Linked DNA regions of Homo sapiens. The protein of the gene in region 3 interacts with the protein of the main gene of each other region in a biochemical or structural test. Each region holds a gene or a part of one and is shown on either strand. Other genes may lie near its edges. The genes, in order: ESR2, HACE1 and CCNC.

The links.
Region 1: the proteins of CCNC (region 3) and ESR2 form a complex in vitro, tested with the Homo sapiens proteins (one study listed by BioGRID).
Region 2: the proteins of CCNC (region 3) and HACE1 form a complex in vitro, tested with the Homo sapiens proteins (one study listed by BioGRID).

The regions. Positions count from the first base shown.
Region 1 is NC_000014.9:64,256,252-64,259,907, reverse strand, and holds part of ESR2 (estrogen receptor beta), read left to right. Parts: intron 1-2,492; exon of another isoform or gene 2,493-2,543; coding exon 2,544-2,682; intron 2,683-3,656.
Region 2 is NC_000006.12:104,769,328-104,772,983, reverse strand, and holds part of HACE1 (E3 ubiquitin-protein ligase HACE1), read left to right. Parts: intron 1-909; coding exon 910-1,059; intron 1,060-1,594; coding exon 1,595-1,791; intron 1,792-3,656. UniProt on the Homo sapiens protein: E3 ubiquitin-protein ligase involved in Golgi membrane fusion and regulation of small GTPases. Acts as a regulator of Golgi membrane dynamics during the cell cycle: recruited to Golgi membrane by Rab proteins and regulates postmitotic Golgi membrane fusion.
Region 3 is NC_000006.12:99,544,537-99,548,192, forward strand, and holds part of CCNC (cyclin-C), read right to left. Parts: intron 1,939-3,656; coding exon 1,859-1,938; intron 695-1,858; coding exon 576-694; intron 1-575. UniProt on the Homo sapiens protein: Component of the Mediator complex, a coactivator involved in regulated gene transcription of nearly all RNA polymerase II-dependent genes.

The DNA.
Region 1 (3,656 bases), on a different chromosome or scaffold from region 3:
GGATTCCTCACCTTGAAAGGAGGGGTGGGGTAGAGTACAGTATGACTAGTTTGAAAGTGAAAGGTTTGTCAGATGCTAAATAGAATTTTGTAAATTATTGTTCCAGTAGAGAATCAATATTATGTACATAAATGAATATGTATGGACAAACAGAGTAAATCAGTGGTTGAAGTTACACGAATCATCAATGGGCCCATAAACCTGGAATGCCATCAAGTTAAAAATGAGCTTAGTTACTCATGAGTTGTCACTTGGAACCTGCGTTTTCCATCCTCCAAAGTGATCACTTCTCTCAAGCCCATTTGTAATATATATCTGAAGTGCTGTATGATGCTAAAATTACCAGCTAATTATCATTTGACTTGGTGTTTCTGTGGAGGAGTGAATCTAGGATTCTAACCTAGAGTGGCAACACCCCACGATCCCCCTGTGACAGCTTCTCCATGCTGTTCTTTACAGTCCTTGAAGAAATGAAGTCTCTTATAAGTTCTGAGCCACTGGGGGCATTCCCATGGCCTGGAGGGCAGCGACTGCACTGGGCAAGCTGTAAAGATGAGGAGGGGTGAGAAGCTGGGGGAAGAGAAGTTTTGGGTAAAGAGCCTGGGGAACTGAGGCCTATGGTGACAGTATCATTTGGGGACTTTTGTTGGCCTGGGCCCATTTCTTCTGAGCTTCCTGAGGATTTTTGGTTTCTAGTTGTATTTTGTTTTGTCTAGCATCTTCACCTTTGCCAGAATTATTTTATTTTCTCTGCTTTTTCCCAGGGGAGGCAATACTGATGCACTTTCCTCTAGTTTTTGCTTTAAATGTATTCCAAACACGATTTTGCAGGACCACACATGGAGAGCAGTGGTGAAATTAATTATTGCTGAAAGCTGTGCACCTTCTTTGTGCCATAAGAAATCTGAACTCTTAAACTGCATTATTCCTTATTCAAGCCTGGTGTTTTGAAAAGTTTTCAGGAAACGTAGACATAATCTGAAGGCGTGATTTTTTTTCTCCTCTCTTAGCTGGCATAGTCATTGTCCAAACCAAAAAATATATATTAAAATATCATCTAGCCTTGATCTTGTTGAATATCTACAAGATTAAGAACCGTGATCTCTCTTGGGTAGGCTTATTGTCAATCACTATGGGTGAGACTGGGAAGGTATATACACATTAGGAACCTAAACTGAGCAAAGCATGTGGATTTAGAAAGTATTTATCCATCTTTACATTCATAACACCATTACATTCTCCTTGAGGCAGATTTGCGTTATAATTGTTCAAAGACTTGAACCATGTGTGTTCTCTCTGCTGTAGTTTCCTCATCTGTAAAACAAGAATGATAAGAGATCCTGCCTATAAGACATTCTCAGAGATAGGCATTGTTACCCCCATTTTCCTATAAGAAAAACAAAGACTTAATGGGAGATTAAGTGAACAGCTAGAAAGAGGCTGAGCTGGGGTTCGAACCAGAGTCCATTTCACTCCAAGGCGGTGTCTTTTGTTATCATATTTATATTACATGGCCCTCTCTTTTTATCATGGCTTGTGAAGGAAGCCCCGGTGTTCTCTGCTTTGCTTTTGAAGTGCTTCCCTCCCCAGAGATTACCTGTTTGCAAACAGTACTGTGACCAACATGGGTTATTAGGTTGTCAGGACCTGCTTCGTTATTATATTTGCTCTTTATTTATTTATTTATTTATTTATTTTTGAGACAGGGTCTCGCTCTGTTGCCCAGGCTGGAGTGCAGTGGCGTGATCTCAGCTCACTACAGCCTCGACCTCCTGGGCTCAGGCGATCATCCCACTTCAGCCTCCAGAGTATCTGGGACTACAGGCACCTGCCACCATGACCAGATAATTTTCTGTAGAGATGGGGTTTCTCCATGTTGGCCAGGCTGGTCTCAAACTCCTGGGTGCAGGCAATCCACCCACCTTGACCTCCCAAAGTGCTGGGATTACAGGTGTGCTTGGCTATATTTGCTGTTTAGGATAGAATCACCCAGAAACAGTGCTTCTACCCAGAAGAAGGATCTTAACACTGGATAGGAAATTTTAATCAATCAGAGAAATCCTTGCAGTTGAGGCCTTGGTTTTCTGTGAGGGCTGGCACTGCTCTCTGCAAGCCTCCAACCCCAACCTCCACCTACCCCATCCCCCACCTACCCCATCCCCCACCCCTTCTGATCCCAGTCAAGGATTGGGTCAGACAGGCAGGTCTTCTGACTGGCAGCCAAGCATCAACATTCTCAGTAGTGCAGAGGAATTATCAGGACACAGCTAACAAAGATCAGTTCTGAGCCGAGGTCGTAGTGCTTGACAAACTCTAAATGAAGTATATTTGTCTCTAGAAGGGGTCCAAGACTGGAAACTAAGTTGCGCAGCTTAACTTCAAAGTTTTCTTCCTTTAATGAGCAGTTAATCACATCTATAAAATATCAACTCCCTAATGGTTTGTGTTTTCTTAGTGTTTTAACACTTGCCATTCTGTCTCTACACACACAGGGAGCTGAGGAGGAGGGGTGGGGGTGTCTCACCGCCTCTTGCTTTCCCCAGGCTTTGTGGAGCTCAGCCTGTTCGACCAAGTGCGGCTCTTGGAGAGCTGTTGGATGGAGGTGTTAATGATGGGGCTGATGTGGCGCTCAATTGACCACCCCGGCAAGCTCATCTTTGCTCCAGATCTTGTTCTGGACAGGTGAGAAAAAATACATTGTGTTTCTTCTCTGACTTGTTTGAGTAAGGTGCTTAGTGAGTGGGAACAAAGTCCTGGGTGCTGCAATTAAAATCTCACACTTGCAGGGCAGAGGATGATAGCATCATCAGCTCCTTCACTGGGTCAAGAACCAGAGAAGGAGAGAGTTGGGTCCAAGGATTCAGGGTCCTGTGACTCATTTTTAATCTGTGGTGCAGCAGCATTTACAGGCCAGCGCTTTAATAGGGGACTGTATCCCGTAGGTATGTGGCCACTATGTGTATAAGTCGACACAGATTTTTCTCCATTAAAAATTCCATTTTCAGGTTATAATCTTAAGTTGTCCTGCTGTTTTTTGTACCTATAGTGACCAATTATATCTGGAGCTTTCTGGACAGGTGATAAAATTCTTAGAAATGTGCCAAGTTTATTTTCACATGCTTTAACTCACTCTTTTGTTTTTTTTTGTTTTGTTTTGTTTTGTTTTTTGTTTTTTTTCTGAGATGGAGTCTCTCTCTGTTGCTCAGGCTGGAGTGCAGAGGTGCAATCTTGGCTCACTGCAACCTCCGCCTACCGGATTCAAGTGATCCTGCTGCCTCAGCCTCTCAAGTAGTTGGGATCACAGGTGTCCACCACCATGCCAGGCTAATTTTTCTATTTTTAGTAGAGAAGTGGTTTCACCATGTTGGCCAGGCTGGTCTTGAACTCCTGACCTCAGGCGATCTGCCCACCTCAGCTTCCCAAAGCGCTGGGATTACAGGCGTGAGCCACCATGCCCGATCTGCTTTAACACATTCTAATGCATGTACTATATAGCATTTTTGGCAATAGCGGTGGAAGGAAGGGTTACTAAAACTATATGAAACTTAACAGAAAATGGGACATGATGCTGTATCTTGGTTGTGTTTGATTTTCTTTTAAAGATGACACAGAAAAGGAAACAATTTTTAATTGACTTAGGTGAACTGTTTATGGAG
Region 2 (3,656 bases), 5.2 Mb from region 3:
TGTACAATTCAGTGGCATTTAAGTACATTCACAGTGTTGTGCAACCATCGGCCACTATCTATTTTCAGAGCTTTTTCATCACCCCAAGCAGAAATTCTGTACCCGTTAAGCAATATCTCCCATATCCCCTTTCCTCAGCCTTAGGTAACTACTAATCTACTTTACCTATCTATAAATTTGCCTATTCTAGATATTTTATAAAAGTGGATTCATATTCCATTGCACTGGATTTTCATAGTAATTGGTAACTTATTGCCCTTGCCATTTTTACTTTCACCTCAGAGGTAATTGTTTAAACTTAATTGTTTGCCATTAGAAAGACTTGGTTACCTTGTGGACTGAGGTGATTTTCTAATCATTGTTAACAGGCATCAAGTTCATTGACTAGGCCTGTCACTTAAGAGCAGTTGTACATTTACAGTTTTTAGTTATTCTCATAGTGTTCTACTCCTGAAGCAGCAAAAACTAGCAAATACTTACTGCACTGGCACATACAGATGAATGGGATAATGTCTGTCCTAGCGAACAGCCTATTGCCATACTGCCTAGGAAACTGTGTATATGTGCGTGTGTGTGTGTGTATGTGTATGTGTATATGATCCTCTGCTGTATTATTTCCAGAGTGTCTCTGATGATCTTCCAACTAATTTCAGTCAAAAGTACTCTAAAATTTTCTCTCTGCCATAGATTACTGTGACAAATATGTATGAATAAATGATTATCATCTATACTTCCAATTCTACTTACCACTTGTTATATTTTCCACAAAGAACATTTCTCTGGAAGTTTATACATAATGTAACCTTAGCTTTGCTGAAGTTGTATGTGAATTAGTTTATCTGCATCGAAGTAATCTTTCTTCTGCATATAGATTCTTAATAATATATTATTTTGTATTTATTTCAATAGGAACAACTTTTCAGCCTAATAGCAACTCTTATGTAAATCCTGATCACTTGAACTATTTTCGGTTTGCTGGGCAGATCTTGGGATTAGCGTTGAACCACAGGCAGCTGGTCAATATTTACTTCACACGATCCTTCTACAAGCACATTCTTGGTATGGCTCTATTATTATTTCTGCAGACATTTATTTATATTGTTTTTTTTTCAGTTTGAGGAAAACTAGATAAGCAGTAGTATTTTGGATGAGATAATTTTTATTTTGATTGGAGCCCATCTGTATATGTAAGCCATTCGGGGTTTGAAGGAGAAAAAAATGACCTACCTTTTTTTTTTCCAAACACCTCTAGTTAAGTTAGCCTTTTTTTTTTTTTTTCAATTTTTGTGTGTGTATTTTTATGCTAAGAATACATTTCAGTGTGAGTATACTTAAGATAATTGGCATTTTTGAAGTTTATAATAACTTCCTGAATAGTTATTTCAAAGAAAGATTACATTGTAACAATGTGAAAGAAACACAGAATTAATTTAACAGACTTTCAAATTCAGGAATCCATTTAAAATATGCTGTGTGTAGGATTGTATTATATTTTGCAGTTTTTCAGAATATCTGTAGAGGGCAGTATTTTACCATTAAATAGATAAGGGAAGGCAAAACCAGACTATAACTGCTGTATGTTTGCATTTTTTAGGTATTCCTGTAAATTACCAAGATGTGGCATCCATTGATCCAGAATATGCGAAAAATTTGCAATGGATTTTAGATAATGATATAAGTGATCTGGGTCTAGAACTAACTTTTTCTGTTGAGACTGATGTGTTTGGAGCAATGGAAGAGGTGCCTTTGAAACCTGGGGGTGGGAGTATTCTTGTGACACAAAATAATAAAGTGAGTATTTCAGTTTTTACCTTAACCATTGTTTGTAACTTGGCCCTGATAGTTTGCTAGTTACTCTAAATTCTTCTGGCACTTGTAGAAAAACTTTTACTATTACAGTATCATAGCAGATAAAACGTTTAAGTTAATAAAACAATCAAATGTTAAATTTTGAATTAGAAAGGATTATTTTGATAATTGTGCTAGCTGTGCTGAGTTGGTTCCTAAAAAATCGAGAGCACTTCAGCTGATAGTATAAATTGGGCATATGCATTTTGAGAAATTTGATTAGAAATATAAGCTTAAATGAAGATATTTGCAAAAATTGCTCTTTCATGTTTTTAAAGTGTAATATTAAAGAATTCTAATAGAGAAAAGAAATGCCAGTGTTTAAGCTTTCCACATACTTTTGGGATCCAGTAAGTTTGTTCGACCTTTTGATATTTTTTTGACTGTATAACTTGATTATTTATTTATTTATTTATTGAGACGAAGTCTCACTCTGTCACCCAGGCTGGAGCGCAGTGGTATGATCTCGGCTCACTGCAACCTCTGCCTCCTGGGTTCGAGCAATTCTCCTGCCTTGGCCTCCTCAGTAGCTGGGATTACAGGGGTGCGCCACCATGCCCAGATAATTTTTGTATTTTTAGTAGAGACGGGGTTTCACCATGTTGGCCAGGATGGTCTCAAACTCCTGACCTCAGGTGATCTGTCTGCCTCGGCCTCCCAAAGTGCTGGGATTACAGGTATGAGCCACCACTCTCGGCCTTATTTTTATTTATTATTACCTCTCCTCTATATGTATTATTTAAAAATCTTTGCATATGTTTTAAATTTCACTGTTCAAAGTCATAATATGACTTTAAGATTTAATATGGCTTGGTGTTTTAATATGTTATATGAGGTATTTGGAGTTAGAAAATATCATATGAATTCTAGTTCTGTTGCTTACAAGTAGCAGCTTCTGGTTGAACAATACTAAACTGCCCCCCTCCCTTTTTGTTTAGCTGAATTATAATTCCAAGACATCTTCAGAATCAATTTAACTATAAGAAACAATGTTCACTGAGCCATTTTTTAAACTATAGATTTAGTAAAATGTGGATTATTTTAAAAAGGGTTATGTTTAACAATTCTTCGAACTCAGTTTTCTGTAGAATTGGAATAATAATACCTCCCATACAGAATTGTTATTAGCATTTTGTAAAATGAAAAGCACAGCACAAAAGTTAGTTGTATTGGGTAGTTTTCTATAAAAATAGGTTCTTAGTTTCAGATATATAAAGGGAATTGGAAACTTATTAGCAAGCGACATAATTTTACCTTTTGAAACTTAAGATACTATAGTGTACAAAAAAAAGAGATTGAATTCTTGGAAATAAAGTCAGGAGTTGAGTTCTTACATATTCATACTTAGAAATTTTAAATTCTACCCTCTCATTTTACATGAAATGACACTAATCCTAAAGAGTTAATGGCAAAACTGGGGCCAAAACCCAAGCCTCCTAATTTCAAGTCTAATGTTCTTCATACTATATGCAAAATTAATTGTGTCGAGGAAGAACTTACTTGATTTTTAATGTAAGTCATGTTAAGCTCTAGAAGATTATAATAGTTAAACACTTAATTTTTAAACCTATATGATTTGCCAGTGAGTGAAAATATTTTTAGAATCTTTTTTTAGATTGTTCACCTTGTAGCATGTTTATTATTTTATTTTACACTGGAGGCCTACCCTCAATTAAGGGTAATGAAGTCATAGAATCTTTATTAAGCAATGATTGCCTTTGATAAGAGAACCATAAACATGATTCTTATCTGTGAATACTATATCTGGTGAGGTTTGTCACTCCTTTCAGATATATATGACAAAGTGG
Region 3 (3,656 bases):
ACTTAAAACACACACATACACCCCAATAACAACAAAAAAAACCCTCTTAGCACAGGTGATTCATTTTTAGCAAAAATATATTCTTATGTGCCATGGACCTTAGGGTCACTTAAAAACCAAAATTCTTTATCTTTACAATATCAGATCATTCATTGAAATTTTTGAAAATTGCTACTGAAATTTATAAAACAGGACAATAGCCAGCAGTGAAAAAAAAAAAAAAAAAAGATGGCACAGAATCAAACTGACATGAAACTACTATAGTTCTGAATTCTGCCCTGAATTTCAGATGAACTTACCTAATTCTGTCAGCTTTAAATTTATGGTATATGACCATATGTTGAGAGATACCTGTAATATACCTCCACTGCATTAGGAAAAGTTACTAATCAGATTAGTGATTTTTTTAAATGAGACATTCTCAATCAAATCACAAATTTAAAAAATAAAATTAACATGGATCATGAAGTTTTGGAAGAAATGTTTTAAAAACTACAAAACAACATAATCTAAGAAAAATATAGTAAGTATGATATATGATTAAATGACATCAATAATTAAAGTCTACAAAGTACCTGTTTGGAGGTGGTTTTGGTTTTGGCATCTTACTAAGAATGGTTGCCATCTCTTTTCTCTCATCGAAATTCTTCCACTGCTCATATAGTTTTAAAATAACCCTGATTATTTCCAAAATCTAGAAGAAAATATTTGAAAAGTTCTCAGTGGCAAAAACAAGCAACATTTTTTATATAAAGAGCATACATCACTACACAACCCTCAGAAAACAGTAAATAGTCTCTGTCCTTAAATCCTGATAAATTTGAAAGCAGTATTTTTCACCACAGTGCTGTTTAGGATTTTCCTTCTAGCATCTCATTTTTCAGCATGTGTGCATTGTCCATTCTTATCTATCTCTGCAGCTGATTTCCTTCCATCTGATGGTATCTTTTAAACTGAAACATACTAAGAATAAAGGTTCTAATCATGAGGGAATATACCACTATAGAGCACACTCCTCTAGTATAAATTATTTTAAACAACTTAATCGGGGGTAGTGCACAAAAGATGTTTTGATTCTCTGTTACTACACATACATTAAGGTGCTCAAAAACTGGCAGCTACAAATTTGAAACAACTAGTTAACAAATTAGCTATTTTTTTCCCACCTGAGTAGAACCTAACCTTAGGATTAATTTTAATGCATTTAACACTTGAGCAGAAAAGCTAGAAACACAGCAAAAGCCATTCTGCCAGGAGATAGGCTATGTTACAGAAGTTCACAGTAGTATTCAGTGGTTACCAGGGAGCTTTTAAAATAATCCTGGGAATGAGAGGCTACTTTGCAACCAATTAAACCAAAAGTTTACCATTCTGTTTAATCCTAAACTGAAAAGAGATACATAACTTAAATAATCAGCATTAACTCTTCCTACCAAACTTTTTTTTTTTTTAAACGGAGTCTCGCTCTGTTGCCCAGGCTCGCGTGCAGTGGCACGATCTTGGCTCACTGCAACCTCTGCCTCCCAGGTTCAAGCAATTCTGTCTCAGCCTCCCGAGTAGCTGGGAGTACAGGTGCATGCCACCACACCCAGCTAATTTTTGTATTTTCAGTAGAGACGGGGTTTCACCATATTGGTCAGGCTGGTCTTGAACTCCTGACCTCAGGTGATCCGCCCACCTAGGCCTCCCAAAGTGCTGGGATTACAGACACAAACCACCATGCCCAGCCCATGTTTCTTAATATTTTGTAACCAATAATCTTCTTAGCCTGGTGGACATCACAAGATTTTAGGCTCATGATAAGTAAATATGACATTAATTTTTAAACATCCAAGTTTACATACAACTAAGGGAATACCTTTTCCATATCCACAGAAAGCTCAGCAAACCATTGCCTGGCATCTTTCTGCTGTACAACACAGGCTACATGTAGGCAAGCTGAAATGAAAATGAGAGACAACTGTCCATGTTTAACTGCAAACACAGAATATATGATCTAACAAAGATTTTTCACTATTTCCTGTGTATTTTCCAACACTCTTTAAAAAACATTAAACAGCTACATATGAGAGTTACCACTGACCATCTCATCAATGTAATCCGAGACAGAAAAAATTACTAGATTACATCAAGTTCTTGACATCTGGTCCTCACTGCGTGCTAGTCATGGTGCAGTTGCCTTGAGAGTCAGGCACGTTAAAGAGGAAAAACATCCAATGAGGAGAGCAGAAAAGGGAAGTTATCCCTGAGTAGTGTACAAAGTAGCCGTTAAACTGCACCCAGAAGTCAGTGTGACAAAACAAAACAAACAAAAATGTTAATTAATATACTAGGTTTTAACAATGTTGACTGTGTTTCCACATTTCAGTTAAAAGCAGTGTTGCCTGGCCTTTTTTCTTCCTTTTCATTATTAGCACATGATCAAGTTATGTGAAAGCTGGGCACATCCTTACAGAATTCAGTGTTGTAATCAAATAAAGGTTAGAAAATAAATGTAATATACTGTATACAATATTAGTTATATATGTTATATACAATATAAACTAACAAAAGAGAGGAATCTACATCATAATTTTGCCTAAAACAATTTCTACTGAGCAGCCTGTATACCCTTAACCCACTCCAGCTTAAGTTATACTCCGTGGTCTGGTTATCCATGTCTTTGCTAAGGATGACATTCTAGGCAAATAGCAACTCAAATGTGAACTGACACACTGGTTGCCCTAAGTCAAGCAAAGCTATGAGTAGGGCTTAGGTCAAGAAGAGGTTAAAAAAAACCAAATGACTGACATGATAAAAACAGGAAATTAAAATACAGTGGACAATGCTATTAACATGGGCATGCATAGAGTACACTGAAGATTGAGGAAGCATCCTAAACCCAGACTGAGGTGATGCTGAAAGGGTGGGGGAGGGTCACTGAAGAGCTGATATCTAAGCCAAGTCTTACAAAAAAAAAAAATGAGAGTGGGAGAAGAGAATAGTATGTATATCAATTGGGAGACGAATTTGGCTAGCTCCGGGTTTCTCAATCTTGGCACTACTGACATCTTAGGTTGAACAATTCTTTGACACTGTCTTGAATACTACAAGATGCTTGGCAGCATCCCTGGCTTCTACCCACTAGATGCTAGTAGCACCCTACCCTAGTTATGACAACTAAAACCAAACATTGCCAAATGTCCCCTCGGGGCAAAATTATCCCCAGGTGAAACCACTAGCCTAGCTCAACAGTTTGGAAGATAGACAGGCTCTCTGAGGATGGGAGTGCTGGAGGCTAATAAGCCAGTTAGGAGACTGCTGTGGTAACATGGATAGAAATGAGAAGATGACTATGAGATTACAGAAGGAACAATCGAGAGGAAGGCACAAAATGTACTGGTAAACAACTACATGTGGGTATTGAGGGAGATGAAAGGGCCTAACTGCTGGGTTTCCAACTAAGGTATATAACTAGTGCTATTCACCAAACTGGCAAAGACATTAAAAGGAGGAACATATTTTGGGGCAAAGTGATAAGCTCAATCCTCATCATGAGTCTGAGGTGCTGGTGGGATGCCAAGCGGAGCTATGTAAAAGGAAGATGGATATAAAGAACTGCCAAGTGGCAAGATCTTGGCTAAATAAAGAGATTTAAATGTTTCGGCATGTAAGTG